4 separate regions of the Homo sapiens genome follow, and regions 2, 3 and 4 are each linked to region 1. The links come from fine-mapping of genetic effects on gene expression. A gene starts in region 1. Each other region holds a variant in brackets. All regions are shown on one strand. Distances are from middle to middle.

Region 1 (7,607 bases):
GGAAGTGGTCGGGAGCTGGCCCAGGCTGGTGGGAAGGGACAGCCGGAGATCAGGGCAGGCTCACCAGGGGATTTTCTTTGTCCTCCATGCTGCAAATGAGGATGAGCTATGCAGGCAAATGGGCCCTGGAGGAGGGGGTTGGCCAAGTAAAATCTCAGAGCAGCCAGCCGGTGCCTCAACACACTGGTCCCACAGTGTGGGAGGCCGACGCCAACAGTGCTGATGCCAGCCCCAGCACACAGGCCCACGGTGTGGGGGACAGGCAGAGGGGAATCCTGGAGTCGTGGAGGAGACCCTACCATACCTCTGGGTTCCCAACTGCTGCTGCGAAGCTGCCTCTGGCCCCTGAGCCCTCTGAGCTGCAGCCCCGGAGTTGCGGGGCCCAGGGTGTGTGGGACCCCGGTTCTCAGGATCCTCTGCTTGGTAAAAGGCAGGTTGCATTAAAAGGCACCTTCCTGTCCACTCCTGTCACACCACATGGAGGCAGCATTTTTTTCGTTTTTTGTTTTAGAAAAGCAGCCACAAGAATGGATGGTCGTTATCTGGGCCAAGACCTGGCAGGGATTTTATCTCCTGCTCACTATGGCAGGCGTTGTCACTGTCCCCTGCCTCCGTGGGGGCAGCCAGTGGGGGAGGTAGTATAGCAGAGGGACTAACATGAGCCAGACAGACCTAGGTTCTGGCCCCGCCACTTCCAAGCATGTGACCTCCAGCCCAAGTCACTCCATTTGTCTACCGCATTTTCAGGGAGACAGGCAGCACGGACCTCCCGAGTGTTTCTAAGGCGATGGTGCCCATGGGCCCCTCATATGGACACTCAGCTGACCGTGACGAGTGGCCACCAGAGTGTGGAGTTAGCACCAAACTGCCTGGGTGTGGTTCCTGGCTCTGTGCCCACTAGCTGTGTGATGTTAGGCAGGTTACCAAACCTCCCTGTGCTTTATTTGCCTCATTTGTAAAGAGGGTATTAAGAGAGAAAATGAGTGCTCGCCCCAGCAGCACATATACCAAAATTGGAATGATACAGAGAAGATGAGCACGACCCCTGTACAAGAATGACCCACATATTCGTGAAGCCTTCCATACTTAAAAATATTTTCCAAAAAGAGGATAAAGGCTGGGTGTGGTGACTCATACCTGTAATCTCAGCACTTTCGGAGGCTGAGGCAGGTGCATCACTTGAGGTCAGGAGTTTGAGGCCAGCCTTGCCAATATAGTGAAACCCCATCTCTACTAAAAATACAATAATTAGCCAGGTGTGGTGGCAGGCGCTGGTAGTCCCAGCTACTTGGGAGGCTGAGGCAGGAGAATGGCTTGAACCCGGGAGGCGGAGGTTGCAGTGAGCAGAGATTGCACCATTGCACTCCAGCCTGGGCAACAGAGCAAGACCATGTCTCCAAAAAAAGAAGAAGAAGAAAAAAAAAGAGGGATAGAGAGAATGGGTAAAGCACTCCAAGAAAGCCTGGCACATGGAGGACATTTGAACATAGTGTTTGCCACTCTTGATTCTGAGACCTCAGGCCCACCCAGAGTGCTGGGGTACTAGTAGCTGCCGCTGCTTACTAGCCAAGTGAGGAAATTACCTAACCTCTCCAACTCTCAGTTTCCTCATCCCTTCTCATAGGTCCATGAGGATTATATGTATTATCCTTGCAGCTGCCTGTGCAGTAGGCACTGCTGTTTCTCCCATTTACATACGGAGGCTCAGAGAGGTTGATTGACTTCCCCAAGGTCACACAGCAAAGAAGTGGCAGAGCTATGAGTGGCACCAGGGTTTGGCTGGCAAGACCTGGGTTTGGCTGGCAAGACCTGAGCCTGCCTTGTCTGGCCACTGTAACTGCACAACCACCAGAAAAAGGGCCAACAATTTGGAGAGGCACACAGGCTGCCTCATTTCTCCCCTGCCAGGACCTGGGCAGGGGTGGGGTCAGATCTAGAGTGATTTCTGCAGTTTTTTCTGATTCTCACAGCAGCTTGGTGAGAAAGGCACACAGTCCCTGCTTTACAATTAGAAGCCTGAGACACAGAGAGGTTAAAAAAAAAATCTTGCCCAAGGTCACCCGGCTGGTAGGGGGCCAGGAAGGACTTAAACCCACGTCTGTGGGTTTGCAGACAGCTGAGCAGTCATGGAGGCTGTGGCTTGGAGTGGGCAGTGTCGCAGGTCAGCTTGTCACCTGGGTCCAAAGGTGGGGAGAGGCCACTCAGGGGTCAGAGGTTGGAGTGGGCGTAGGATTGGGTGGGGCCTTGGGGGACATGGGAGGGCATTGTGGGCAGAGGGCAGGGCTGTGCCTCAGTTTTCCAAGCCTCTTCCTGTGCCACAGTGCCTGCAGGAATGGGGAGCATGGCCAGGAGGTGACGGGCCAGGGGGACTCCCCATTCTACTTCCTGCTGCCCTGGGGAGCACAGGGCCTGTCAGTCTTCCCTAGGCCTCCAGAGTAAGAGGTGAGAGATGGAATAGGTGCCCCCAGGCAGAGGACATGACCAGCAATAGTGTACATAGCAGGTGTCGACCAGGTCAGCAGGTACCCAGAGATGAAGAGATGACCACTTTCTCCAAGGGCAGCCAGTCAGCATGCAGGGCCATCAGCATGGGCTGGGGTGAGTGGCGTGTTCCTTCTTCAGCAAGACAGGGAGAGGAAGCCGGATAGGAGGCAGCTACTGACGTTGACATGCCCACCTCCTGTAGACCCACCCGGCCCTTGTTCCTGGAGGCAACCAGTTTGGGGCTTGGCTCTCGGGTATCTGGGGAGCAGGACACTAGGGCTATCTCAGGCTCTGTGCCCTGACCCCACCCTTGCCCAGGCCCTGGCAGGAGAGAAATGGGGCAGTCTGTGTGCCTCTCCAAACTGTTGGCCCCTTTTCTGGCAGTTGTGCAGTTATCGTGGCCAGACAAGGCAGGGTCAGGTCTTGCCAGCCAAACCCTGATCCCACTCATAGGTCTGCCACTTCTTTGCTGTGTGACCTTGGGCAAGTCAGTCAACCTCTCTGAGCCTCCATATATAAATGGGAGAAACAGCAGTGCCTACTGCACAGGCAGTTGCAACGATAATACATATAATCTTCATGGATTTGGGAGCATAGGCACGCAGCAGCCCCCTTCTCTCTGTGGCTCCTGCTCTCCCAGCCTTGGGCCCCCTCCTCTGCTTCCCTCTCTGGCCTATTTCCTCTCCTCCTGTGCACTTCTTGGCCTTTCTTCTCCTCTGCTCACTCCACCTGCAGGCCTCGGGCGAGCTCGCCACCCAGATCCTTGCTGCCCAGGAGAACAGGGCACGGAGCCTGAGATAGACCTAGTGTTCTGCTCCCCAGAGACCCGAGAGCCAAGCCCCAAACTGGTTGCCTCTGGGAACGAGGGCCGGGTGGGTCTACAGGAGGTGGGCATGTCAATGTCAGCAAGCTGCCTCCTAGCCCCGCTTCCTCTCCCTGGTGGTCTGGAGCCCCTGGCAGCAGGGTGAGGGTGGGGAGGGCAGAGCTGGTGTGTGCCTGACCATACCCCTGGCCCTGCTATCTGCCCAGGGCCCCTGGCCCCCGGCCCCCAAACTCCATTTTCAGCATGTGGGGAAACCCCCTGTATCTGCGTGGGCAAGGTGGGATTTTCATCCCTGGTGGGTGGAGAAGGAGCAGCCCCTTGAAGCAGGGTGATAACCCAAGTTGCCCCAGAAAGCAGCAGCTCCCCAGGCCTCCACAAGGTTAAGCGATGGAACCTTCCTAATGGGAAGGCTGGGCGTGGGGGTCTGGTCCCCAAGATGTTGGGCTTGGGGCCCTCTCGGGCCCTCCATACTCCCCAAGGTGTGGGTCAAGGGCTCTAGCTGTCTGGGCAGTGCCCATGCACCCTGCCCTGCCCCGCATTGGTAAGCTGTGCATGTCTGTGACGACCCTGTGTGTACCTGACATGGGTGAGTCTGTACGTGTGGTCTCGGCTTTTGTATTCGGAGGATCCCGTGTGAGCTGCAGCTGTTGGCGTGTGCCTATGTGCTGGGGGCGGATGCAGGGGCTGGGGACCATCAAGGATGATGTGTGGCTGGGGTGGGAGGAGCAGTGACAGGGCTGGGGCAAGGAGGACTTCAGAAGCCAATTGGAGCCAGGCTTGTCTCCCAGCAGCCAATATGGGAGCTGGGGCTCCTGGTAAGCGAGTGGCTGCTCAGAAACCCTGCGGGGAGGAGGGGCTAGCTAGGCTGGGCCAGGATCCCTGTATAAATGGCCCAGGAGCTGTGCCCCATCACAGAGCCGACCATCTCCCACTCGAGCTGCCCCCGCCCTCTGGACCCGAGTGACTCAGGCCTTTGTTTGTCCTTCCTGGTAGAGGCGGGTTCCCTCCCTCGGCAAGATGCCGGAGTGCTGGGATGGGGTGAGTGAGGGCGCTGCGGGCATCAAGGTGGGCCGGGAGGATGGTGCATCCTTATGACCCACCGCAGGGAGGAAGTGCCCCCCTCAACCCACATCTGGTGGCAGCCCGGCCTTCAAATAGCCTCACCCTGGGGTCACTGAGACACGGCCAGAGTGCTCCAGGTTCCCTGGTGATCCTGTTTGCAGGAGTGGCTGGGGGCAGCTGCTAGTCAGAGCCCATAGCAGGGGCTGGGGGGAGCGTGTGGTTGGGGGGTGGGTGACATATCTGCAGGAAATGGAACGTGGAAGGCACTGTCTGACTTGGCTGCATTGCCCGTGTGGACCCGGGCGCTAGTGCCTGCATGTCCCTCTGACCGTGTGCCCTCTGGTGTGCGCTTGGATGGTGTCTGCCTTGGTGATGCCTGGGGCCATCAGGCCAGGGGGCGGGGGTGTCCTTGGTGAGCCCCCGAGGCTGTGTGCCCAGTGTGCGTGCCGGGTCTGTGCGTGCAGGGGCTGCCGTCCCAGTGGGCGGCCGTCTAGCTTGTTTGGATGGCTGCGCCAGTGTGATGGGAAGGACAGGCGGCCTCTTCCTTAGGAGCCACCTCACAGTTCCCAGGGCTCTGCTGCGCCAGCCGGGCAGAGGCAAGGAGGTCTGGGCCACACAGGAATGACAGCCTTTCAGGCAGGGGTCCCTGCTGGGGAGGAACGAGGAGGGGTTGCCTGCCTGCCTTATTTTGTAGGTGGGGGAAGGCAACGCTGGAGCCGTGAAGCTGGCAGGGCTAGGGGACCCCAGGTGGAGCCCAGGGCACCTCCTCTCGCCGGGGCATCAGGTACCCCGGCCCCATTCTTCCTCAGGAGGGAGAGGCAGGGGCAGACTCACCCCCACCCCCGGGCCCCACACGCCTGCCCTGCCGGTTCCGCAGACGATAGGTCACCCCGCACGCACGGAGGTGACGACGTCAGCACCTGCCCGCCCATGCAGACCCTGTCCCCTGAATTATTGATGCGGCTGACAGGCCGAACCACAGCACCACCAGCACCAACTCCCACACCGGCGCAAAGCCCGGCTCAAAGCCCCACTCCCCTCCAGTGCTCAAGGTCACAGGCGAGGGGAGACGGACCGACCGAGAGGAGCCGCCACAGCCCCCTCCCCTGCTGCCGCAGTGCTTCCCGCCTGCGCCTACCTGGAGGCGGGGCCGGCTCTGACGTCACCCAGAGCCAATGGGAGTGCTCGGCCCTGAGGGTTGGGGGCCTCAGAGTGCACCGCGCTGTGGCCCTTGTGGGGCTGCCCTTGCGCAGCGCTCCAAGGGACGGGGATGTTTGGCTTCGATCAGGCTGAACTGAGTCCTGAGCTCTCCGCAGAGGGTGAGAGAAGGCGTTAGGGAGGTTCGCAGCAGGGTTCAGCGAAGGTCACTGGACTTCGTAGGACAGGTAGCCCGGTGACGCCCAGGCCCAGCCCCAGCCCTTCCCATCCTGGGAGATGAGCCCTAGTAGAGCCTGATCACGTCACCTCAGGGGGATGGGGACAGGGGCGGCCACACCAGGGCTGGGAGAAGACAGTGGGGCCTCCTCAGCAGCAGAGAGCAGACACCCCTCACACCCCTCAGGCGGACCCGCACGCTGCGGGTCTGGGTTTGGAAGGCACCGCCCTGGGCTCTCGACGTCTGACCCCAGGAGGATAACTGTCCTTTATGCAGCAGGAGGCGCATTGCAGTTCTTTTGCAGCCCCACCCTCCAGAGCTGAGAGAACTCACAGGTGGCTGTGAAAGGGCTGCCTGGTCAGGAGCTCCCTCGGGTGGAACCTGATCTCCTGTGAACATGCAGCCTTCAGTGCACCGCCCTGGCCCCTGAGACTGGCACCTGGCAGGGCCTGCCCTCCCTACTCTGGGATTGACCTTGGGCAAGTCATTTCCCTTTCCTAGCCTCAATTTCCTCCTCTATGGCTTGGGCCTATGTGGGAAGTAAATGAGAAAACTGTGGGTCAGTGGTCAGTGGCGGGGAAGTGTTCCTGGATTTGATGGGCCCCGAGAAAGGATAGGCCTGGGATGGGAGGGGCTGTGTGGTCTGTCCCCTCTCAGCCCTGGTGTGGCCTCCTCATCCCCTGGGTGGTGCAATCAGCCGCATGGCTCACCCTAAGGCTCATTACCTGGGCTCTCCTGGAGGACAACAGGGAAATAAAAAGGGCCTGCAAGTCAAAGAGTGTTCTCCAGGGTAGAGCCTTTGGCCACCAGGTTGGTGCCAGCTTGTCACTCCACACTGGAGACACAGGCCTGGACAGTGGTCCTCTGAGACCAGACCCACTAATGCTGGCCCCTGAGCAGCTGTCTTCTGCTGTCTAAATCTCCTTTCCCATTTGGAGGCAGGAACTCAGGTTCTTTCTAAACCAAAGTGTCCTCACCTGCAAAACAGGGACTAGGGTTCCTGTCTCTTGGGTAACATGCAGGAAGCCTGGCACACAGTAGGTGCTCAGTCGCTTGATGTTTCTTTCATGTCCTTGACCCCAGCCCCACCTCCAACTCACTGGGCCACTCACGTGGTTCCCAGGGCTCACAATGATGCAGAGAGGATCGGTTTATTTAGCTCAGATGGCCCCTCTTGAAGTTTGCCCATCCGAGTGGCTAAGAATGCCCAGTTTGCAAAGGAACAGCGAGAAGGGCATTCTCCCAAGGCTCAGGGATGCCCTAGCATAACAGCCCCCTTTCTGGGGCTTTCTCCAAGTGCTAAATGCTCCACAAACATTGGCTTGTCTAGTTCCCGCAAAGTCCCTGTGAGGTGGTTCTGGATGGAGAGGCTGAGGCACAGCAGAGAAGTAACATGACATGCTCAGTCACAAGTAAGGGGTAGAACCAGGTCTTCCTGAGGAAGTAATGACCTTGAGCAGCAAAACCAAAGGTGTGAACTCAAGAGGATCCCAGAGCAGGCTCTGCAGAAGGCCTCTAGAGGGGATGGGGAGGGGGGTCTGACCCGGGCCTGCCTGAAGGGAGCCCTTGAGGATGCTGGGCTCACACAGAAGGGCGTTCAAGGTGGAAGGAACCACATGCGCAAGAGCCTTAGAGTGGGAGCCAGGGGCAGTGCCGGGGTCGGGGCTAGGCTTGGCTGGCACGGGGTGTTTTCTGAGGATTCCAGGCAGGACCACTGAGGCCGTTCCCCTGCAGCAGCAGGAAGTGCCTGAGAGTTCTGAGTGTGAGAGGGACTTGGGCTGGGGAGGCAGAGCTGTCCAGGAGGGGCTGCTGCAAGATGGAGAAAAACAGCCTCCCTGGACCCTCAAGGGCGGAGGACAGTGA
Region 2 (7,607 bases), 160 kb before region 1:
CTGTCTCAAAAAATAAAAAAGAATAATAGCCTGCAGAGGGCTCCTTCTCTCCTTTCCTTCCCTTTCCTCAAATCTGGATTGCACTCCACATTGTTGCCACCGGGAAAACCACAGTCACTGTTTCTGCTCTAGCCCTGACAACAGGTGGTCAAGGCCACAATGGATAATTTTGGTATTGGAAAGGACAGAGCTCGGATGGTCCAGTTCCCTCAGTTTGCAGAAGCGGGGGTTGGTGAGTTGCCTGTGCCACCTTTGGTAGCACAGCTGTGGCTAGAGGCAGCTGATCTGGTATTTAGTTAGGAGTTTTTCCCATTGCATCCCAAGGGATCAAGATTGGAGGGACCATGCACATCGGAAATTGCCTTGGAACTTCTTATGACCAAGTCCCCAGAGAGTTCTTTTTTTGGCTGCTCACAGAACTTACTTCCTGTGATCTGAAAGCCAAAAGAATTTTGAGATTTTAGAATATTCTGTTGTTTTCATGGCCCTACTCTGTTTAATAAAAGAGCTTTTCAACCTCCCAGCTTGATTCAGTTTTTGAAAATGTAGAATTTAGGCCAGGCGCAGTGGCTCACGCCTGTAATCCCAGCACTTTAGGAGGCCGAGGCAGGCGGATCACCTGCGGTCAGGAGTTCAAGACTGGCCTGGCCAACATGGTGAAACCTTGTCTCTACTAAAAATACAAAAATTAGCTGAGTGTGGTGGCATGTGCCTGTAATCTCAGCTACTCAAGAGGTTGAGGCAGGAGAATCGCTTGAACCTAGGGGACAGAGGTTGCAGTAAGCCAAGATCGTACCGCTGCACTCCAGCCTGGGTGACAGAGCAAGACTCTGTCTCAGAAAAAAAAAAAAAAAAAAGAATGAAAAGAAAAAGAAAATGTAGAATTTAAGTTAGACATTGTTTCAAACTCAGAAGGCTCTTCCTCTCTTCTTCTCAAAACCTCCCCATTTTTCCAGCCCCAGTTAAATGTTTCCCCCACAACATCCCTACGAGATCTCCCTCAATTAACCCAAGTAAGGTGACTGTCTTCCTTCCACACAGTGCTGGAACTTCTCTCATTCAAAATCTTTCTTCCTCTCTCTCATATTAAAAATGGTATTAAAGGCTGGGCACGGTGGCTCACGCCTGTAATCCCAGCACTTTGGGAGGCCGAGGCAGGTGGATCACGAGGTCAGGAGATCAAGACCATCCTGGCTAACACGGTGAAACCCCATCTCTACTAAAAATGCAAAAAATTAGCCGGGCGTGGTGGTGGGCGCCTGTAGTCCCAGCTACTCAGGAGGCTGAGGCAGGAGAATGGTGTGAACCCGGGAGGCGGAGCTTGCAGTGAGCCGAGATCGCGCCACTGCATTCCAGCCTGGGCGACAGACAGACTCATCTCAAAAAAAAAAAAAAAATTGTATTAAAACTACCTTTCCCAGCCCACAGCCCAAATCCACTCGTTTCTTCAGTCGATATATGAGTGTCTTTCCCCCTCATGCATGTATCATTGACGTCTCTATCTTTGCCGTTCTGATACGTAAAAAAATTAATGCTATTTTTTTCTTTCAGTAAGAGTTTATCAGCCTTTTTTTTTTCAGTCAGACATCATAAGCCATTTTTGCTTCTTTTTCTGGGGCTGCTTATTCTTGCACTTTGTCCATTTTTCTATTGATTTGTTGACCTTATTAATTAACAGGAACTGGTTATGTATTAAATAAATTCTTTAAAATAGATCATGCCATTTAAAAAAATTTATTTATTTATTTAATTTTTGAGACAGGGTCTCACCCTGTCACCCAGGCTGGGGTGCAGTGGTGCAATCACGGCTCACTGCAACCTCCACCTCCTGGACTCAAGCGATCCTCCCACCTCAGCCTCCTGAATAGCTGGGGCTACAGGCTTGCACCACCATACCCAGCTAACTTTTCTTATTTTTCATAGAGATGGGGTTTTGCCATGTTGCCCAGGCTATTCTGAGACTTCTGGACTCAGGCGATCTGCCTACCCTGGCCCCCGAAAGTTCTGGGATTACAGGCGTGAGCCACTGTGCCCAGCCTAAAAAAAATATTTAATTAACGCCAAGTAAAGGGGCTCATCCCTATAATCTCAGAAGTTTGAGACCCTGTCTCTAAAATAAAAATGAAAAAATTTTAAAAATTAGCCGAGTGCATTAGCATGCACCTGTAGTCAAAGATACTCAGGAGGCTGGGGTGGGAGGATTGCTTGAGCCCAGGGGTTTGAGGCTGCAATGAGCTCAAACTCACTGCAGTGAGTATGGCTACCAGCCTGGGTGACAGAGTGAGACCCTGTCTCTAAATATATATAAATACATAGTTTATACCATAAATCTGTGATATAAGTTTTTCCCGTGCATATGTTTTAACCTTTCTATAGTAAAATTTATCAGTCTTTTTCTTTAAGGCTCCTCGATTTTCAATCTAGCTTGGAAAAATATTCCTGACTTCAAGATTTTAAAAACACTCTTTTTTTCTAACATTTTTTCAAGTACTTTTAATGGTTTTACGGTATTGAAATTTTTGCTCCATTTGGAACATATTTGGGTGTGAAGAGTACACTGGAATTCAACATAAAAATTTTCCAACCCACTTATTAAATAATCTACCTTTTCCCTACTGATTTGAAATGCCATGTTATCAAAAAACAAATCATCTTTTGGGTTTTTGTGAGCCCTCTAGTCTGTCCCATTGATTTTCGTGGCCACTCAGGTGCCAGTGTTTAGCTCTCTTTATTACTTCTTGGCTTTCTTATGGTATTTGTTACTTTCTGCACTACATGATATAAATTCACAGCAATGTCAAAATTTGTCATAATTCTCAATTTTAGGTCCTTTTCACCCCAGACAGCACCCCCCCTTCATTCCCCCTGCCCTGTCCCCATGGAACTTTTTTTCTTTTTCTTTCTTTTCTTTCTTTCTTTTTTTTTTTTTTTTTGAGACACTCTCACTCTGATGCCCAGACTGGAGTGCAGTGTTGTGATCTTGGCTCACTGCAACCTCCACCTCCCGGATTCAAGCGATTCTCATGCCTCAGCCTCCAGAGTAGATGGGATTACAGGCACCCGCCCTCACAACTGGCTAATTTTTGTGTTTTTGGTAGAGACAGGGTTTCCCCATGATGGCCAGGCTGGTCTCGAACTCCTGGCCTCAAGTGATCCACCTGCTTCGGCCTCCTAAAGTGCTGGGATTATAGGCGTAAGCCATCGGCCCCAGCCTTCTCTTCTCTCTTAAACTTATTCTCTCTAACACTCATATGAAGCCTAGTGTCATGCAGTCTTTTCTGGTTACTCACTTTTTTATATACATATCTTATTTTCCCACCAAGATTGTCTCTCCCGGAAGGCTAAGCTAATCTTTCATGTACCTACACCATCCACAGCAGTATCTGGTACACTGCTAGGCAAATAGAGAAATTCTGAGGATGCTGTTAAAAAGCATTGTCTCAAAATTGATAAGAATTAACACGATAAGTATTAACTTCTAAAATAAATTAAGTAACATTTATTTTAGAAGTTGTCTCTCTCAAAAATCAGTCCTTTTTCAACAACCAGACAATTTTTTTTATTTGCAAATTTTGTTCAAGGTTATTTTACATTTTTAAATTTATTTCATTTTTAGTTGTAAAATTTACATGACATGAAATTTACCATTTTAACCATCTTAAGTGTATAGTTCAGTAGCATTAAGCACATTCACAGAATTGGGCAGTCATCACCACCATCCATCTCCAGAACTTTTTAATCTTGCAAAACTGAAATTCTGCATTTATTAAACACTAACTC[C/T]TCATTCCCACTCTCCCCAGCCCTCCTGGCAGCCACCATCCTACTTTTTGTCTCTGTGAATTTGACTACTCTAGGTACCTTATATTAGTGGAATCATACACTATTTGCCTTTTTGTGATTGGCTTATTTCACTTACCATAACATCCTGAAGGTTTATCCACGTTGTAGTATGTGTCAGAATTTCCTTCTATTTTAAGGCTGAATAATGTTCCATTGTGCTTATAAACCACATTCGGTTTATCCATTCATTCAACTAGGGTCGTGTCTACCTTTCGGCTATTTGTGATTACTACAGCTATGAACATTGGTTTACAAATGTCTGTTCCAGTCCCAATCTGTTTCAGCTCTTTTGGGTATATACCCGGAAGTGGAATTGCTGGGTCATATGGTAAATCTATGTTTAATTTTTTGAGGAACTGCCATCTTGTTTTCCACAGCAGCTGCATCATTTCACACTCCCACCAGCAGCCCACAAAGCTTCCAATTTCTCCACATCCTCATCAACACTTATATTCTGTGTTGGGTTTTTGCTTGTTTGTCTGTTTACTTTTCTTTCTATAATAGACCTCCTAATGGGTATGAGGTGGTATCTCATTGTGGTTTTGATTTGCATTCCCCTAATGGTTAATGACACCAAGCATCTTTTCATGTGCTAAACGGGTATGTGTCTATGTCTTCTTTAGAGAAATATTGATTCAAGTCCTTTGTCCATTTTTAAATCTGGTTACTTGGTTTTTTTGTGGTTGAGTTACAGTGGTTTTTAAAAAATGTTCTGGATATTAGCATCTTTTAAGATATATGATTTGCAGACATTTTCTCCCATTTCATTAATTTCCTTTTCACTCAGTTGATAGCATCCTTTGATGCACAAAAGTTTTAAATTTTTATTTTAGCCCAATTTACCTGTTTCTTCTTTGTTGCCTGTGCTGTTGGTATCACACCCAAGAAGACCCTGACAGTCTGACAGTGTGATGCGGTCCCTTAAAATGAGCTGTCACCCTAAAATATTAGAAATTCTAATAAGAGAGCCTGGGCCAGCCAGTTATATAGGTTTTTCCAGAAAGTACAAGTTGTTCCAGAAAATGTGAAAGTGTGTGTCCCAACTCTCCTGGTCAATAGATTTGGCTTACAGGATCCGTGTAACATGTTTTCGTTACTGAGTGCAACTCTGTCCTTCTCAGAATATCTTGTCAGAGCAGAAGGGGGCAGATGAGGTCCTACAGACACAATTAATAACACAAAAATGTTGGGCAAGGTCATCTTGGAAAAGGTTGTTACTCTTGGAATTTTAATAGGCCCAACTGTATTATAAATTGTATCTGAAAGACACAACAACTATGTAGAGTACAATTTACTCTTCAAAATACAATGGAGGATTGAGTGAACATGCAACTGTAACCACAGGACAGGAAGGGAGGCCTGAAATATGCTCTGATGGCAACTCTGTGCTTATCTTGGTATCAGAATGATCACATGCTTTAGGCCGGGCAGGCGCGGTGGCTCACGCCTGTAATCCCAGCACTTTGGGAAGCCAAGGTGGGCTGATCACTTGAGGTCAGGATTTCAATACCAGCCTGGCCAACGTGGTGAAACCCCGTCTCTACTCAAAATACAAAAGTTAGCCAGGTGTGGTGGCGTGCACCTGTAGTCCCAGCTACTTAGGAGACTGAGGCACGAGAATCGCTTGAACCCGGGCACGAGAATCCCTTGAACCGGGAGGTGGAGGTTGCAGTGAGCCGGGATCACGCCACTGCACTCCAGCCTGGGTGACAGAGTGAGACTCCATCTAAAAAAAAAAACCAAAAAACAAACAAACAAACAAAGAATGCTTATAAGCTTCAAGTTCGATATCCAGAACATTCTGCTTAACCCCTAGGGTATTTATTTTTGTCACCTGTTTCTGGTATTCATAAGGTATCTTTGTCTACTGTATATGATTTAAAGAAGTTTCTCTTATATTTTCCCCAAATTTGAAAGCAGCAACTTTCCGTTCTGTGGACCTGTGTGAAAATGTCAAGTTCACACGAATATGAGACTTAAAATACAGATACATTCTCAAGTCATCAAAAATATGTAAAGGGTCAAAACTACATTTTTAAATTATATTCTGATTTGGAGTTTTCAAACCTTCAAAAATCACAAGTCATTTTTTTAAAAAGTCCTGAGCCTTTACACTAAAATGTAATTTGACCTTTTTCAAACATGAATTTTACTATATATAGAACAGAGATTCATAAAGAAATTTATGTGCGTTATACCTAGTGATTCATATTAATGGCGAGTTTTGAGAAAAGAGTAGTAACATTAATAATATTTCGGAGTCAGGTTAGAGATCAAGATTACAATAATTTTTTTCCTTTTTTTGATGTTGCAGCCTGTCCAAATCAAAACAAATATATTTTCCACCTATAGATGGCAATATTTGTACAATGAGTTTATCTTAATTAAAGGAAGATTATTAGAAATAATCTTGATGTAAAGATCTTCAAAGCTTTTTATAATGGAAAACTTCCAGCATACCCAAAGGTAGACAGAGTAGTATAATGAACCACCATGCTCCCACGATCCACGTTAACAGTTACCATGGCCAGTCTTGTTTCATTAACCTACATCCCCTTCCCCTCCATCTGGATTAATTTGAAGCAAATCCCAGACTACTGCAAAATTAAAATAGAAAAATAAAGTTATGATACCACCTGCAAAACACCTTCAAGGAATTCTGTTGGTACCCATAGAATCCTAAAAATAAATAAATGGCCAAATAAGAAACAAACAAAAGCAACCCTGCTGCAATGAAGATAAAAAACACTGAATGCCGGCTGGGCGCAATGAAGATAAGAAACACTGAATGCCGGCTGGACATGGTGGCTCAGGCCTGTAATCCTAGCACTTTGGGAGGCCGAGACGGGCGGATCACGAGGTCAGGAGATGGAAACCATCCTGGCTAACCCAGTGAACCCCGTCTCTACTAAAAATACAAAAAAAATTAGCCAGGCGCAGTGGCTGGCACCTGTAGTCCCAGCTGCTCGGGAGGCTGAGGCAGGAGAATGGCGTGAACCCAGGAGGCGGAGCTTGCAGTGAGCCGAGATCGCGCCACTGCACTCCAGCCTGGGCGACAGAGCGAGACTCCGTCTCAAACAAACAAACGAACAAACAAAACACCGAATGCCATAACATTTTATGATAAAACTTTATGTCTATCACACACTGTAAGAAGGTTTGTATAAGTACAATGTATACAGGTAAAATAAAAAGGTAATACTTTAACTTTTTAAAAGCAATTACTAGGCCTGTCGCGGTGGGCAAGCCTGTAAACCCAACACTGGAAAGTTGAGGTGGGAGGATCACTTGAGGTCAGGAGTTCAAGATCAGCCTGGCCAACTTGGCAAAACCCCGTCTCTACTAAAAATACAAAAATAAAAGCAATTACTAACTTACAGAAATAACAAAACACCAAATGACAGAATATGTGACATGCACATCCTTCTTTGGGGTTTTAAAAGAAATGACAAGGTCCAATTATAAATTTAAAAATTAATAATAAAAATTTTTAAGTGAGAAGACCAAGTTAGAAGCCCCTGCAGAGTGAGTGATTAGATATAGAAAGGAAATCCAAGGAAGCAAGGAGAATGGAAAATTACTGACTTGTTAGAACAAAGCAGTGACAGCTGCTGGCTCTAAAATTAGGAACGGAGACAAGGAATTTTCAGAGCACCACCAAACAAATCACAAAGGCACAATTCACCCAGCACCTTTCAGAAAGATTTTTAACTCCTAAAAGAATACAAGGCAAGCGACCGCCAGGTTGATCATTCAGGGGCTGTGTG
Region 3 (7,607 bases), 68 kb before region 1:
TGATAACTGTACCTTAGTTCAATTTCGTTTTTAGCAGAAATAACAAGTGCTTGTTGAAAAGATAAAACCATATGAAAACATCAAAATAAACCTAGCAAATCCTCACTATCTCCATGCCCCACTCTTCCTCTCCTGAGAATCACTATTAACAACTTACCATTTACTTTCCAGGTAAGACTTTTCTCCCCCATGCATACACATATTTCTGTATACAGTTTTTAGAAAGTGAATATGAATTCTTCCTGTTTAACTTACTGGTGTGTTCTCAGCTCCTGGCACATAGTAGGCATTGAAAGCATTTCTTGAACAAATAAATTATGAATTTCTGAAAATTATCTCTTATTCAAAAATACATCATGGGCCGGACACAGTGGCTCAAGCCTGTAATCCCAGCACTTTGGAAAGCTGAGTCAGGTGGATCACTCGAGGTCAGGGGTTCGAAATCAGCCTGGCCAACATGGTGAAACCCCGTCTCTTTCAAAAAATACAAAAATTAGCTGGGTTTGGTGGCATAAGTCTGTAATCCCAGCTGCCCGGGAGGCTGAGGTGGGAGAATCGCTTGAACCCAGGAGGGAGAGGTTGCAGTGAGCCAAGATCACGCCACTGCACTCCAGCCTGGGCAACAGAGTAAGACCCTGTCTCAAAATAAATAAACAAATAAATAATACATCGTGGACATCCTTCCATGTCACCTACCTCCATCTTTTTATGGCTGTGTGATATTCCATAGAATGGCTGCGTCATTATCCAACCAGAACCCTGTTGTCAGATGTTAGGCTGTCTCTGTGTTTTCATTGTTTGAGATGATTGTTCCTACATCCTTGCACACTTGTGTATTCTGTAGGCAAGTGTAGAGGACAGAATAATGGCCTTCCAAAGATGCCCACATGCTAATGCTCAGAACCTGTGAATTTGTTACCTTGCATGACAAGAGACTTGCAGACGTGCTTAAATTAAGGCTCTTGCGGTAGGTGGGGGGAGGTGATCCTGGATTGTGGGGTAAGCCCATTATAATCATAAGGGTCCTTGTAAGAGAGAGGCAAGAGAGTCACAGAGCAGGCCATGTGATGCAGAAGCAGAAGGGAAGAAGGAGATGCAGTGACAGAAGCAGAGGCCAGAGTGATGCCATTGTTGAAAGGACTACAAGCCAAAGGAGGCCTCTAGAAGCTGGAAAAGGCGAGGAAATGAAGTCTTCCCTGTAGCCTCCAGGATTGTGGCCTTGCCAACCCATTGGACTTCTGTCCTCCAGAACTATGAGGTTATGAATTTGTGCTCCTTAGCCTGCCCAGTTCGTTATTGTGATTTGTTATCGCCACAATAAGATGCAAACTGAGCCAGAGACCTAGAAATGAAATTGCTGGCATCTTAGTCTGTTCAGGCTGCTATAAAAAACACCATACCCTGGGTGGCTTATAAAGAGCAGAAATTTACATTTGACAGTTCTAGAGGCTGGGATGTCCAAGATCAAGATGACAATAATTCCTTGTCTGGTGAGGGCTGTTTCCTAGTTCATAGATGGCACTTTCTGGCTGTGTCCTCCCATGGTGGAAGCGGTTAGTTAGCTCTCTGTGACCTCCTCCATGAGGGCTCTGCCTCATCACCTCCCAAAGCACCCCACTTCCTAATACCATCACTTTGGTGATATGAATTTGTCACGACAGCTGGGGGAGATGTAAACCTTCAGACCAAAGCACTGGCTCAAAGACTAAATTCATTTTCTAAATTCATGCACCATCACTCATACACACAGCGGTTTCCATCCCGCTCACTGCCCTCCAGCTGCTGTCTAATATTTCTATGACCTTCTCAAAATGTCAATCCCAGAACGACCTGCCTGTCCACACACTGCTGACCCGTGCATAGTAAGCATTCTGCTGGGTTTGATCAGCATCCTTGGGAACTGCACATTAAGCTGTGCTCATTCAGCTAGAAATGACCTGAGCGCTTCAGTCTTCAGTCACGCCTCTGCTGTCCTATTCTCGTGCCATTGGTTTGTTTTTGACATTGGGGCAGAACTTTACTTTTATCCCTCCTAAATTTCACATTGTCTAAGTAAAATGGGGAGAGATGAGAATCTTCAGTGTCAAATTACTGAGTAGTTCTTTGTTGCCATTTCATTTCCATGAGTTTTTGGAGAATGGAAAGAGCAGGTGGATTTGGCCCTTAAATCTCATAGGGAAAAAGAAAGTGAATAGAAATAACATCATAAATAATAGAGAGGGTAAAAGCCTCCATATCAGAAATGGCTCAACCTCAGGGATTTTAACGCCTAAGAAGTGATATTTATTTTTTATTTTTTATTATTTTTTTGAAACAGGGTCTCACTCTGTCGTCCAGGCTGGAATGCAGTGGCACGATCTTGGCTCACTGCAGCTTCGGCCTCCTGGGCTCAAGTGATCCTCCCACCTTAGCCTCTCAAGTAGCTGGGACTACAGGCACACAGCTAATTTTTGTTGTTGTTGTTGTTGTTGAAACAGGGTTTCACCATGTTGCCCAGGCTGGTCTCAAACTCCTGACCTCAAACGATCCGCCTGCCTCGGCCTCCCAAAGTGCTGGGATTACAGGTGTGAGCCACCGCACCTTGATCAGAAGGGATATTTATACAGGAAAGCTCCATAGGACAGTCCAGCTCAGCAGGGACTGGTTTAATGTTGGGAATTCTATTTTGTCATTAGTTCCAGAGCAGCCAAGCCACCAAAATATCACTTGGATGCTGCCAGCTTCCTCCAGTGCAGG[T/C]AGAGGAGGTGTCCTGGGAGCCCACAGGCTGCATTCCCATGAGACAGACGCCCCCATCAGTCCCCTAGGACCCCGCCCAGTATAGGGCAAGCAAGCTCTCAATGGTTGACAGTCCCTTGGGTCTTTATGTCCTGACTAGGAATAGGAGGTCTTACAAAACTGAAACAAGTTAGAATTTGAAGAGGGCTAATTCCATCCCGGCCCCTCCTTTTACAGACAGGAACCGAGGCTGGGTCATCGGCTCCAGAATTTACCAGGCTGTGCATTGTAGAACCTCCTCATGGACGGGCTCTGTGTGCAGGCTTTACTCTGGCCAATGGCAGGTGCGTTACCAGACAGGAACGCTTCTGGACAATGCTCCCCGACTCTTGTGTCAGAAGCACTGGATTCCTTTCCTGTGGCTGTCGTAACAAAACACCACAAACTAGGTGGCTTAAAACAACAGCGATTTATTCTCTCACAGTTCTGGGGGCTAGAAATCCAAAATCAAGGTGTCAGCAGGGCCACGCTCCCTCTGAAGGCTCTAGGGGAGAATCCTTCCTTGCCTCTTCCTAATTTCTGGTGGTTTCCTTGGCCGCAGCTGCGTCAGTCTGATCTCTGCCTCCATCGTCACACACGGTCTTCTGCTGTGTGTCACCGTGCTCTCTTCGTTCTGTGCATGGCTGTCTCTGTGGCCAAATTTTCCCTTTTATAGACACCAGTCATATTGGATTAGAGCCCACCCTAATGAGCTCTTCTTGAATTGATGACATCTGCAAAATTCCTATTCCCAAAATAAAGTCACATTTACTGATATGGGGGTGAGGACTTCAACATATATTTTTTATTATTTATTTATTTATTGAGATGGATTCTCATTCTGTCACCCAGGCTGGAGTGCAGTGGTGTGATCTCAGCTCACTGCAACCTCCACCCCCCAGGTTCAAGCAATTCTCCAGCCTCAGCCTCCCGAGTAGCTGGGGCTACAGGCATGCGCCATTGTGCCTGGCTAATTTTTGTATTTTTAGTTGAGACAGCGTTTCACCATGTTGGCCAGGTTGGTCTTGAACTCCTGACCTCAGGTGATCCACCCACCTCAGCCTCCCAAAGTGCTGATATTACAGGCATGAGCCACCACACCAGGACTTCAACATATATTTTAGAGATGCAGTTCAACTCATAACAAGCACCTTCTACCAGGAGACAGAATGAAGCTGGTAACAAAGGCCCAGAGACACTGGTTCCTTTAGCCAGAGCCTGGTGATACTGCGGAGTACCTCGACAGGCAACCCTGAAACTAGTATCCCTGGGCCAGATGTTTAATGGGCATGTAAGAGGCTGTCCCTGAGTCAGAGCTTGCAGAAGGAGGGGCTGGTACAAGGTCCAGCCTCTCCTCAACTGTCCTGAGCCCCTAACTCAGCAAAACAGAAGCCCTGGCGTTCTTCAGCCACCTGCCATAGGGTCCAGCAAGCAATTGTCATGACTACTTACTCACATCCTTGCCATCTTTCCTCCCTCACTCCAAGAGGCTCACCAAAGCACCCCTCCCTACCCCACACACGGCTTTCCCTGAGAAGAGCTCTGATTAATTCATATGGTTGCCTCCTTCTCATGGCATTTCCAATATGTCATGGTGCCCCTTACTGACTGGCCTCCCAGGCAGCTCTCGGGCTTGCAGCTCTCAGCCTTGGGGAACGAGGCTGCACCATGTCCAGGGCCTTGCTGCCTGGGTGCTTACTGGTTTCAAAACATTGCCACTGGGCTGCTTGTCCTGATCCTTCCTCCGACTTAGTTCAGTCAAGGTTTGCAGATGTACCCTGATCTGTCACCTGGAAAACATCAAGACCCAGCCTGTCCTGTTTGTGTGTGGCCACTCAGGCTAATCCATTCCGCAGGGGCAGGGAAGGCAGCCCAGACTGCTTCCTTCCAAGTTCTTTCATCTTTGACTGGATGCATTTCTCAAGCCGACTCTCGGCCTAGATAGAAAATTGCAGCAGAGTTTTTACGTTGGGCAGTTCTAAAAATGCCACCTAAGAGCTTGCACCTGTGCTGAATGCTTCCCATGTGTAATAGAAGCACAGGTATGAAGGTGGGAATGTTCCCAGCTGTCCCAGGCCCACTAAAGAGGGCTCTGGCATTGCCTACTGTTTGCTTCCACGCCCTCCCTAAAGCATCTTGCCACTGCCAGACAAGTTCTGAGAGACAGAAGGGGAAAGAACTGTCCCGAGGAAGCAAGGTCAAAGGCAGTACACCTCATGGCAGGTGGCAACAGGACTGCTGTGCAGACTCACCCGTTGAACATGCTATGAGTGCTGCCTTCTGTAATTGGGCCCCTGGCTGCAGGGCAGAGGCCTGGCAAGGTGGCAGGGGTGGAGCAGACATGAGTAGAAGAAGGAGATTTTCTGTAGAGGAGGATAAGCATCTTATGGGAGTTGCATGTGTTACAGAGGACGGTGATGAGCCCAGAGTGGCTGTGGCATATACGCCTAGACCCCCATCATGTTCTTCAGGAGACATGAGCACTCACTGGAATTCCAATGGGCTGTTGTTCTTTTAGACTCTACCCCGAGACTGGACCACATGGGTCTCAAAACCTCCATAGGGTCCCACTTGCATTGTCCTATATAATCCTCACAACCACCCGGAAGCATTGGTGTTATTATTATCCCCATTTTACAGATGAGAAAATCAAGGGCCAGGCAGGCCAAGTGACTGGCTAAAGATCTCCCACAGCCGATATGTGCAGAGCTGGTGTTCCGTGAAAGAGCCTATATTAGTTAGGGTTCTCTAGAGGGACAGGACTAATAGGATATATATATATATATATATATATGTTAAGAATTAACTCACATGATCACAACGTCCCACAATAGGCTGTCTGCAAGCTGAGGAGCAAGGAGATTCAGTCCAAGTCACAAAACTGAAGAACCTGGAGTCTGATACTTGAGGGCAGGAAGCATCCAGCATGAGAGAAAGATGTAGGCTGGGAGGCTAGGACAGTCTAGTCTTTTCACATATATATATATATATATATATATATTTTTTTTTTTTTTGGCCTGCTTTATAGTCTAGCCTCACTGGCAGCGGATTAGATTGTGACCACCCAGATTAAGAGTGGGTCTGCCTTTCCCAGCCCACTTATTCAAATGTTAATCTCCTTTGGCAACACCCTCACAGACACACCCAGGATCAATACTTTGCATCCTTTAATCCAATCAAGTTGACACTCAGTATTAACTATCACGGAGCCATATGTGCAAAGCGATCCCCAAATGCCAAAGGAGCCAAGAAACAAAGGAGGCAGACAAATCCTGTTTGTCAGTATTGGATGATTTATTGGGGGAACTCACAGACAGAAGCGTGGTCTTGGGTGGCCATAATACAGGTAGATCTCCCACTGTTACTCCCAAGACCTCAGGCTTGTATACCATAGAGAAAGGGTACATGTGTTCCAGCAAGAAAATTACAGGCACCCCTCCAGAACAGGCAAGAACACTGTGTGTGTCACAGCCCACAATTTGTGCGATAACATCAAGGTTGACGTGTTCTTACACTAGGGACAGGAAATAAAGTAGAAACAAGGAGGCATTCACAGGACTAAGCTAATCAGAAGTCAAACCTAGGGATGCATCCAAAATGGAGTTGCTCTTGTCTCTACAGCTAGGATTTAGAACCTGGACCTGGACGCCTCACTGCTTCCTGCTTCCTTAGTGCCTTGTGGCCTGGAGTCAGAATAATCTAGCTCAAACTTGGGAGTCAAATGCTCCAGGGTCTTGAACTGGTCAGAGCTCTCAATGCCGTAAGTACCTACAACCCCCTTGGGATGTGCTGTGGGGGGACCATCAGGTGTCTCTGCAGCCCAGGAAAGGCATTCACAGTGCCCTCAGGGAGAGTCTGCAAGGGCTGGCCAGAGCCGCTGCCCACAAGGAAAGCTGGCCTAATGTGCTCTGGCTTCCCGCCTTTCTCCATTTGGCCTAAGAACAGAGAACACCCTCATCCCCCACCCTTACCCACACCCCCACTCCCAGGACTCCCCGGGCTGCAAGGGTCACATGGCTGGGAGGAGGCGAGTCTGAGTGGGTCCCCTCCCAGCAGGCTGTCAGTGTGAGATTACAAATAACTGGCAGTTCCCATAATTACTGTGCTGCCCAGAAGCCTGGGCTGTCTATTCTGAAGTAAGGGTGACTAAAGGTCAGGGCTCCACGATCAGCCCCGGCTCAGGTTCTGGTTCTTCCATGGTACTGGTCTCATGACCTCAGGCAAGTGAGCGAGGCAGGCAAGACTGGGGCTGGCACGCAGCTCACCCTCACTGCTGCATTCAGTCCATTCCAGCACCCATCCATGAATCAGCACCCATTCTCCTGGCCAGCAGCCATCCCCTGACTGATCAGCACCCATCCCTCCTGACCAGGACCCATCCCCCCCAATTATCACCCACCCTCCTGACCAGGACCCATCCCCCTGACAAGCACACATCCCTCCTGACCAGCAGCCATCCCTCCTAACCAGGACCCATCCCCCTGACCAGCACCCATTCCTTGATCAGCACCCATCCCCCGAACCAGCACCCATCCCTCCAGACTACCACCTTTCCCCCAACCAGCACCCATCCCCCTGATCAGCACCTATCTCCCTTGACCTGCACTGAATCCTCCTGATCAGCACCCATCCCCCTGACCAGCACCCATTCCCTGACCCCACCACCACACCCGGCTAATTTTTTGTATTTTTAGTAGAGACGGGGTTTCTCCATGTTGGTCAAGCTGGTTTCAAACTCCCGATCTCACGTGATCCACCCGACTCAGCCTCCCAAAGTGCTGGGATTGCAGACATAAGCCACCGCGCCCCACTGCCTCATCACCTTTTAAAGGCCCCACCTCTTAATACTATCA
Region 4 (7,607 bases), 70 kb after region 1:
CAGAGGTGGGCAGATCACTTGAGGTCAGGAAGTTCAAGAGCAGCCTGGCCAACATGGCAAAACCCCATCTCTACCAAAAATACAAAAAATTAGCCAGGTGTGGTAGTGTGCGCCTGTCGTCCCAGCTACTCAGGAGGCTGAGGGAACTGCTTGAACCCAGGAAGCAGGGGTTGTAGTGAGCCGAGTTCGCACCACTGCATTCCAGCCTGGGCAAGAGAGCAAGACCCTGCCTCAAAAAAAAAAAAAAGTACAAGTCAGTTGTTTTGTAGAATGTCCCTTGATTTGAGTTTGTCTGATGTTCTAAATTCAAATTAGGTATTATAACCTTACAGAATAAATTACCTTGTATTCTTCTCAGTGCATTTTATGAAACACATGATGTAGGTTTCAGATGGTGATCACTTTGATCAGTAGACTAACATGGTATCTGACAGGTTTTTCTGAAGTTGTTTTCCCCCTTTGTAATTACAATGTAATTTGTGGAGAGATATTTTCAAACTACATAATTATCCTGCTCTTCAAACATATATCCATTACTATTAACACACATTAAAGATTACAACTCCATCGTAATTCTTCTATATTTATTAGTTGAAATAACTTTCCTTCTCTGGCATTTATTATCATCAGTATGGACTCAAAATACTTTGGATACATTATCTTATTAAATTTTTCAACAAGTACTGCTAATAGATCAATTAAAGAAATTAATTGAAACCTGGAAGTTAGGTAAACTGCCTTCTTACAATAAAAACATTTTGCGCAATTTTAACAGGCAATTAACTTTCCAGAATATTCCACTGCAGATGGATTAAAATGTATAAATGTAAAAGGTTACACTTTAGAACTTGAAACTGTAGAACATTTAGAGCTTATAGAGCAGAGTGCTTTGGAATGGATAATTATTTGTTGTACAAGGCAGTCTTGTGCACTGTGGAATGTTTAGCCAGTATGATTGGTTTCTTTTTTTTATTTTTGAGACGGAGTTTCACTCTTGTTGCCCAGACAGAGTGCAATGGCAAGATCTTGGCTCACCCCAACCTCTGCCTCCCGAGTAGCTGGGATTACAGGCATGCGCCACCACGCCTGGCTAATTTTTCTATTTTTAGTAGCGATGGGATTTCTCCATGTTGATCAGGCTGGTCTTGAGCTCCCAACCTCAGGTGACCCACCCTCGGCCTCCCAAAGTGCTGGGATTACAGCTGTGAGCCACCGCGCCCAGCCTAGTATCATTGGTTTCTACACTACTAGGTATTAGAGGCACGTTTCTCTCTAATTATAACAGCCAAAAAGACCATCAGGCCAAGCATGGTGGCATGCGTCTATAGGACCACCTACTCACAAGGCTCAGGCAGGAAGACTAAGCCAGGAGTTCAAGGTTGCATTGAGCTATGATTGTGCCTGTGAACATGCACTGTACTTCAGACTGTACAACAACACAGTAAGACCTCATAAGAAAAAAAGAAAGAAAGAAAAAAAAAGGCTGAGCATAGGTGGCTTATGCCTATAACCCCAGCGCTTTAGGATGCAGAGAGGACTGCTTGAGCCCACGAGTGAGCCATGATCACATTACTACACTCTAGTCTGGGTAATAGAGTGAGACTATTTAAACAACAACAAAAAGAAATAATGCTGGCCGGGCGTGGTGGCTCATACCTGTAATCCCAGCGCTTTCGGAAGCCAAGGCAGGAGGAGTGCCTCAGCTCAGGGGTTTGAGACCATCCTGGGCAACATGGTGAAGCCCCATTTCCACAGAAAATTAAAAATAAAAATAAATTTAAAAAATAGGCATGCATGGTAGCATATACCTGTAATCCCAGGTAATTGGAGGCAAGACATCATCTCAAAAAAAAAAAAAAAAACCTTCTCATAAAGCAAAACGACAGGGTATGGGCTGACTTCCTCTCCTTCATAAAAGCAACTAGAAAAGTGTCTGAATCAACTTTTTCAGAACTTTGGAAGTTAACCAAAGGCTTATAACAAGTGGGAAATTTTTATTCAAGAGACTATCAAGTTTTCTAGCACATTAATTTGCCCTATTATTCCCATCTCCAGCTCCACAGCCAGCTTAGAAGCTGACAGCCCTCAATCACAATGAAAACCAGAAGCCTGAGAGGTGAATCAAAACAGGGTTAAAACATCTTCAAAGCCTCCTTCTCAGTGAATTGTCATTATTTCATCTGTATAGGGAGTCTGTGTGAGAACACAATGACAAGGTTGGATTTATTTGACCTGAAAACTGACCCAAACAAAAACCTTTTCTGCATGAGGTGTTTACAAAAAACATTTGAAAGTAACTGTTTTAAACTTATTGCCTATCTGAGGTGGAAGACTACTACAGTTGGAGCAAACTACATACAGGCTAACTAAAAATCTGTAAAGAAGGCCGGGCACGGTGGCTCACGCCTGTAATCTCAGTACTTTGGGAGGCGGGCGAATCACCTGAGGTCGGGAGTTTGAGACCAGCCTGCCCAACATGAGAAACCCTGTCTCTACTAAAGAAAATACAAAATTAGCTGGGCGTAATGGTGCATGCCTGTAATCCTAGCTACTCGGGAGGCTGAGGCATTAGAATCACTTGAACCCAGGAGGTGGAGGTTGCAGTGAGCCGAGATTGTGCCACTGCACTCCAGGCTGGGCAACAAGAGCGAAACTCCATCTCAAGAAAAAAAAAAAAATCTGTAAAGAAAAACTTTGAGCCGGGTGCAGTGGCTCAAGCCTGTAATCTCAGCACTTTGGGAGGCCAAGGCAGGCAGATCACGAGGTCAAGAGATCGAGACCATCCTGGCCAACATGGTGAAACCCTGTCTCTACTAAAAATACAAAAATTAGCCAGGCGTGGTGGCATGCTCCTGTAATCCCAGCTACTCAGCTGAGGCAGGAGAATCGCTTGAACCCCGGAGGTGGAGGTTGTAGTGAGCCGAGATCGTGCCACTGCACTCCATCCTGGGCGACAGAGCGAGACTCCGTCTCGATTTTAAAAAAAAGAGAGAAAAAAAAAAAACTTTGGAAGTAAAGACTAAGGTGGCTGTGAATTGCCTGGCTTAGTGCTGAATTGATTCCCAAGATTAGGTTTAAGAAAATCTCGTCAATCTTAGCTGACAACAAGGCTAACCAAGCAGGAACTTCAGTAGCCAACTATTATAAAGAACAGAATTAGTTCAGGAAAGTCACTAAACAAAAAAAGGGCAATAACGAACAATGTGCTCTGCTGAAGAAGGAAGATCTGATTCCAGGAAATGCCATATTATTTAAAGTTGTCTGTTTTCAACAAAAAAATTACAAGACTTGTAAAGAAACAAAAGGGTGTCCCATGCAAAGGGCTGGAAAGCTATGTAGAAATGATCCTTGAGGAAACACTGCTGTTGGACTTACTAGACAAGGAATTCAAATCAGTTACCAAACACATTTATTTTCATTTTATTTTGGTTTTTGAGACAGAGTCTTACTCTGCTGCCCAGGTTGGAGTGCAGTGGCACAAACTCGGCTCAGTGTACCTTCCATCTCCTGGGTTCAAGCAATTCTCTTGCCTCAGCCTCCCAAGTAGCTGGGACTATAGTCGCCCTTCACTATGCCTGGCTAATTTTTGCATTTTTAGTGGATACGGAGTTTTGCCATGTTGGCCAGCTGGTCTCAAACTCCTGATCTCAAGTGATCCACCCACCTTGGCCTCCCAAAGTGCTGCTGGGATTATAGGCTGAAGCCATGACACCCAGCCACTACAGAACACGTTTAAAAGAAAATATATCAAAAGAACTGAAGGAAAACATAGGAATACTATCTCAAAAAGCATGTCCATAGAAATTAGCAAAAAAAAAAACCAAAAAACAGAAATTCGTTTTTTCCCATCAGATACTACACTCTACAACATACCAAACAGAAAAAGTACAGTAACTGTAATAAAGTTTCACTAACCA[CAT/C]GTCCCACCACACATTCAAGCAGACAAAATAGTTCATTTGAAGATAGATCAATTAAAATTATCCAGCCTGAGAAAATGAAAAAAAAGGGGGTGGGGGGATGGGGGCTGAGAACTCAAGGACATGTGGAGCACTACTGAGTGTGCCACCACAAACATAATGGGAGTACAAGGAGAGAAGAAAAAGGTACGGAAAGATTTGTAGAAATAATGACTGAAAACCCGATAAATTTTATTAAAAACATTAATCTAGACACCCAAGAAATTCAATAAATTCTAAGTAGAATAAACTCAAAGAGATTCATACCTAGAATAACATAATCAAGCTGATGAAAGAAAAAAGACAAGGAGAGTATCTTACCAGCAGCAAGATAGAAGCAACTCATCACATACAATACTCAATAAATTAACAGCTGATGTCTCATCAGAAACCATGGAGGACAGAAAGCAGTGGGGGAGCATATTCAAAATGTTCAAAGAAAAGGAATGCCAACCAGGAATCCTTCATCTGGCAAAGCTATCCCCAAAGATACAGGAGGAATTAGGATATTCCCTAGATAACAAAAAGAGGTAATTCATTGCTAGCAGTCCTGCTGAAACAAGAAAAATTCAAGAATCCTGGCTGAAATGAAAAAACACTGAACACTGACCTGAATCCGTATGAAAAACTACTGGCAAAGATACACAGGTAAATACAAAGGACAGTATAAATCTCCTAATTAAAGAACAACTGGGCTGGGTGCAGTGGCTCATTTCTGTAATCCCAACACTTTGGGAAGCTAAAACGGGAGATCAGTTTGAGCCCAGAGGTTCGACACCAGACTGGGCAACATACTGAGAACCTCAACTTTACAAAAAATTAAAAAATTTATCAGGTGTGGTGGCACATGTTTGTGGTCCCAGCTACCTGGGAGGACCGCTTTGAGTCTGGAGGGTTGAGGCTGCACTGAGCTGTGATCGTGTCCTGCGTGGGCAACAGAATGAAACCCTGTCTCAAAAAAATAACTGCATGAAGCAAGAATTATAAACCTTTTGGTGATCACATAATGTATAAAGGTATAATTTGCATGACAATAATGGCAAAAATCAAGGGGAAGGGGACAAAGCCATACTAAATGAAATTTTTGGATCCTACCGAAACTAAAAGATTGGAGTAAGTTAAAATGTTAGTTTTAATACCCAAGGCAACCACTAAGAAACAAAACAAAAAATAAAGTCAAAGAAACATAGGAGTTAAGATGGTACACTACAAAATATCTATTTAACAGTAAGACAGGCAGTAATGGAAGAACAGAGGAACAAAAGTGACAAGAGATAGAAAGATTAACAGCAAAAGAGCCCTATATTATCAATAAATACATTAAATGCAAGACAGGCAGAATGTAGTAAACACAAACACAAATTCACAAACATGCTCCAACCATACCTTCTCTAAAAGAGACCTACTTCAAATTAAGACACATATAGCTTGAGAAAAACAAAACAAAACAAAACAAAAAACAAAACAAAAATATACCAAGCAAACCACCATAAGAGAACTATAATGGTTATACTAGTATCAAACAAAACAAATGTTTAAGAAAAAAACTGTTAATAGAGACAAAGACATTTTACAGTAAGGGTCAATCCATCAGAAATATGTAACCATTAAGGCCGGGCACGGTGGCTCATGACCATAATCCCAGCACTTTGAGAGGCCAAGGTGGGTAGATCACCTGAGGTCAGGAGTTCAAGGCCAGCCTGGGGAACATGGTGAAACCCCATCTGTACTAAAAGTACAAAAAAAAATTAGCTGGAAATGGTGGCGCACGCCTGTAGTTCCAGCTACTCCAGAGGCTGAGGCAGGAAAATCAATGAAACGTGGGAGGAGGAGGTTGCAGTGAGACAAGACAGTGCCACCACACTCCAGCCTGGGTGACACAGCGAGACACAAGACTCCATCTCAAAAACAATAATAAAATAAAGAAGTATGTAACAATTATAAAAACACATGTACTTAAAAACAAAGCCCCAAACACCTGACGGAAAAACTGACAAAACTGAAGGGAGAAAAAGACAGTTAAAATAATAGGAGGCCGGGCATAGTGGCTCATGCCTGTGATCCCAGCACTTTGGGAGGCTGAGGCGAGTGGATCACTTGAGGTCAGGAGTTTGAGACCAGCCAGGCCAACATGGTGAAATCCCATCTCTACTAAAAATTTAAAAATCATCTGGGTGTGATGGTGAGCACCTGTAATCCCAGCTACTGAGGCACAAGAATCGCTTAAACCTAGGAGGCGGAGGTTGCTGTGAACCAAGATCACACCACTGCACACCAGCCTGGGGGACAGAGGCAGACTCTGTCTCAGAAAAATAAAAAATTAAAAATAAAAAAAATTGGGCTGGGCGTGGTGGTTCACACCTGTAATCTCAGCACTTTGGGACGCCAAGGCGGGCGGATCACCTGAGGTCAGGAGTTCGAGACCTGCCTGACCAACATGGAAAAACCCCATCTCTACTAAATATACAAAATTAGCTAGGCGTGGTGGCGCATGCCTGTAATCCCAGCTACTTGGAAGGCTGAGGCAGGAGAATCACTTGAACCCAGGAGGCGGAGGGTTGCGGTGAGCCGAGATCATGCCACTGCACTCTAGCCTGGGCAACAAGAGCAAAACTCCATCTCAAAAAAAAAAAAAATTGAATACTTCTGTACTCCACTTTCAATAATAGATAGATCTACAAAGATAGGCCAGGTGCAGTAGCTCATGCCTGTAATCAATCGCAGCACTTCTGGAGGCCAAAGTGGTAGGATGCCTTGAGCCCAGGAGTTCAACACTAGCCTGGGCAAGACAGTGAAATCCTGTCTCTACAAAAAATAAAAAATTAGCTGGGCATGGTGGTGCATACCTGTAATGCCAGCTACTTCAGAGTTTGAGGGGGGAGGTGGAGGCTGCAGTGAGCCATAATCATGCCACTGTACTCCAGCCTGGGTGACATACACACACACACAAAAATTAAGTTAACGCCAGGCGTGGTGGCTCATGCCTGTAATCCCAGCAACTTTGGGAGGCCAAGGCAGGCAGATCACTTGAGGTCAGGAGTTCGAGACCAGCCTGCCCAACATGGTGAAACCCCATCTCTACTAAAAATACAAAAATTAGTTGGGAGGGGTGGCATGTCTCTATAGTCCAAGCTACTTGGGAGGCTGAAGCAGGAGAATCACTTGAGCCTGCAAGGCAGAGGTTGTAGTGAGCCAAGATCGCACCACTGCACTCCAGCCTGGGCAATAGAGCAAGACTCTGTCTCAAAAAAAAAAAAAGAAAAAAAAATTAAGTTAAATAAATAAAATAATTAATAAATTTAACAAAATCAGTACAAGATGTACACTGAAAATGAAAAAATATCACTGAAAAAAATTAAAGAGGCCAGGCGTAGTGGTTCACACATGTAAGCCCAGCACTTTGGGAGGCTGAGGTGGCAGATCACCTGAGGTCAGGAGTTTGAGACCGGCCTGGCCAACATGGCAAAACCCCATCTCAACTAAAAATACAAAAATTAGTGGGGCATGGTGGTGCACACTTGTAATCCCAGCTACTCGGCAGGCTGAGGCAGAAGAATCACTTGAACCCGGGAGGCAGAAGTTGCAGTGAGCCGAGATCATGCCAATGCACTCCAGCCTGGGCAACAAGAGTGAAACTCCATCTCAAAAAAA

Alleles and levels. Alleles are on the strand shown, and positions count from the first base shown. SD is a standard deviation of normalised expression in the study named. Not every link is listed here.
In carriers of allele CAT in region 4, the expression in iPS cells of the gene that starts at base 4,219 in region 1 tends to be higher than with C alone (moderate effect, 0.70 SD a copy in HipSci).

Evidence for each region. PIP is the estimated chance that this variant, and not a neighbour inherited with it, causes the effect.
Region 2: its variant is the best candidate, but not a certain one, in a credible set for the expression of NDRG4 in unexposed skin (GTEx, PIP 0.68).
Region 3: its variant is the best candidate, but not a certain one, in a credible set for the expression of NDRG4 in atrial appendage (GTEx, PIP 0.52).
Region 4: its variant is the best candidate, but not a certain one, in a credible set for the expression of NDRG4 in iPS cells (HipSci, PIP 0.73).

What each region holds. Positions count from the first base shown.
Region 1 is chr16:58,495,925-58,503,531 of GRCh38, forward strand. NDRG4 (NDRG family member 4) reads left to right here and starts at 4,219. Exons shown (of 15, transcript NM_001242835.2): 1 at 4,219-4,345. The coding sequence starts at 4,325. It also overlaps the pseudogene RNU6-103P. RefSeq lists enhancers at 1-262, 263-818, 4,077-4,893, 4,894-5,711, 5,712-6,528 and 1 more and silencers at 4,048-4,127, 4,138-4,197.
Region 2 is chr16:58,339,551-58,347,157 of GRCh38, forward strand. No RefSeq gene overlaps it. Among named protein-coding and RNA genes, the nearest start is that of PRSS54, 48 kb to the left of the region's middle. The variant C/T (reference allele first, on the strand shown) is at 3,781.
Region 3 is chr16:58,427,435-58,435,041 of GRCh38, forward strand. All of the region lies in intron 1 of LINC02137 (long intergenic non-protein coding RNA 2137), which reads left to right. Among named protein-coding and RNA genes, the nearest start is that of LINC02137, 9.9 kb to the left of the region's middle. The variant T/C (reference allele first, on the strand shown) is at 2,737.
Region 4 is chr16:58,565,707-58,573,313 of GRCh38, forward strand. The region is part of intron 16 of CNOT1 (CCR4-NOT transcription complex subunit 1); the gene reads right to left. Among named protein-coding and RNA genes, the nearest start is that of SNORA50A, 9.6 kb to the left of the region's middle. The variant CAT/C (reference allele first, on the strand shown) is at 3,918.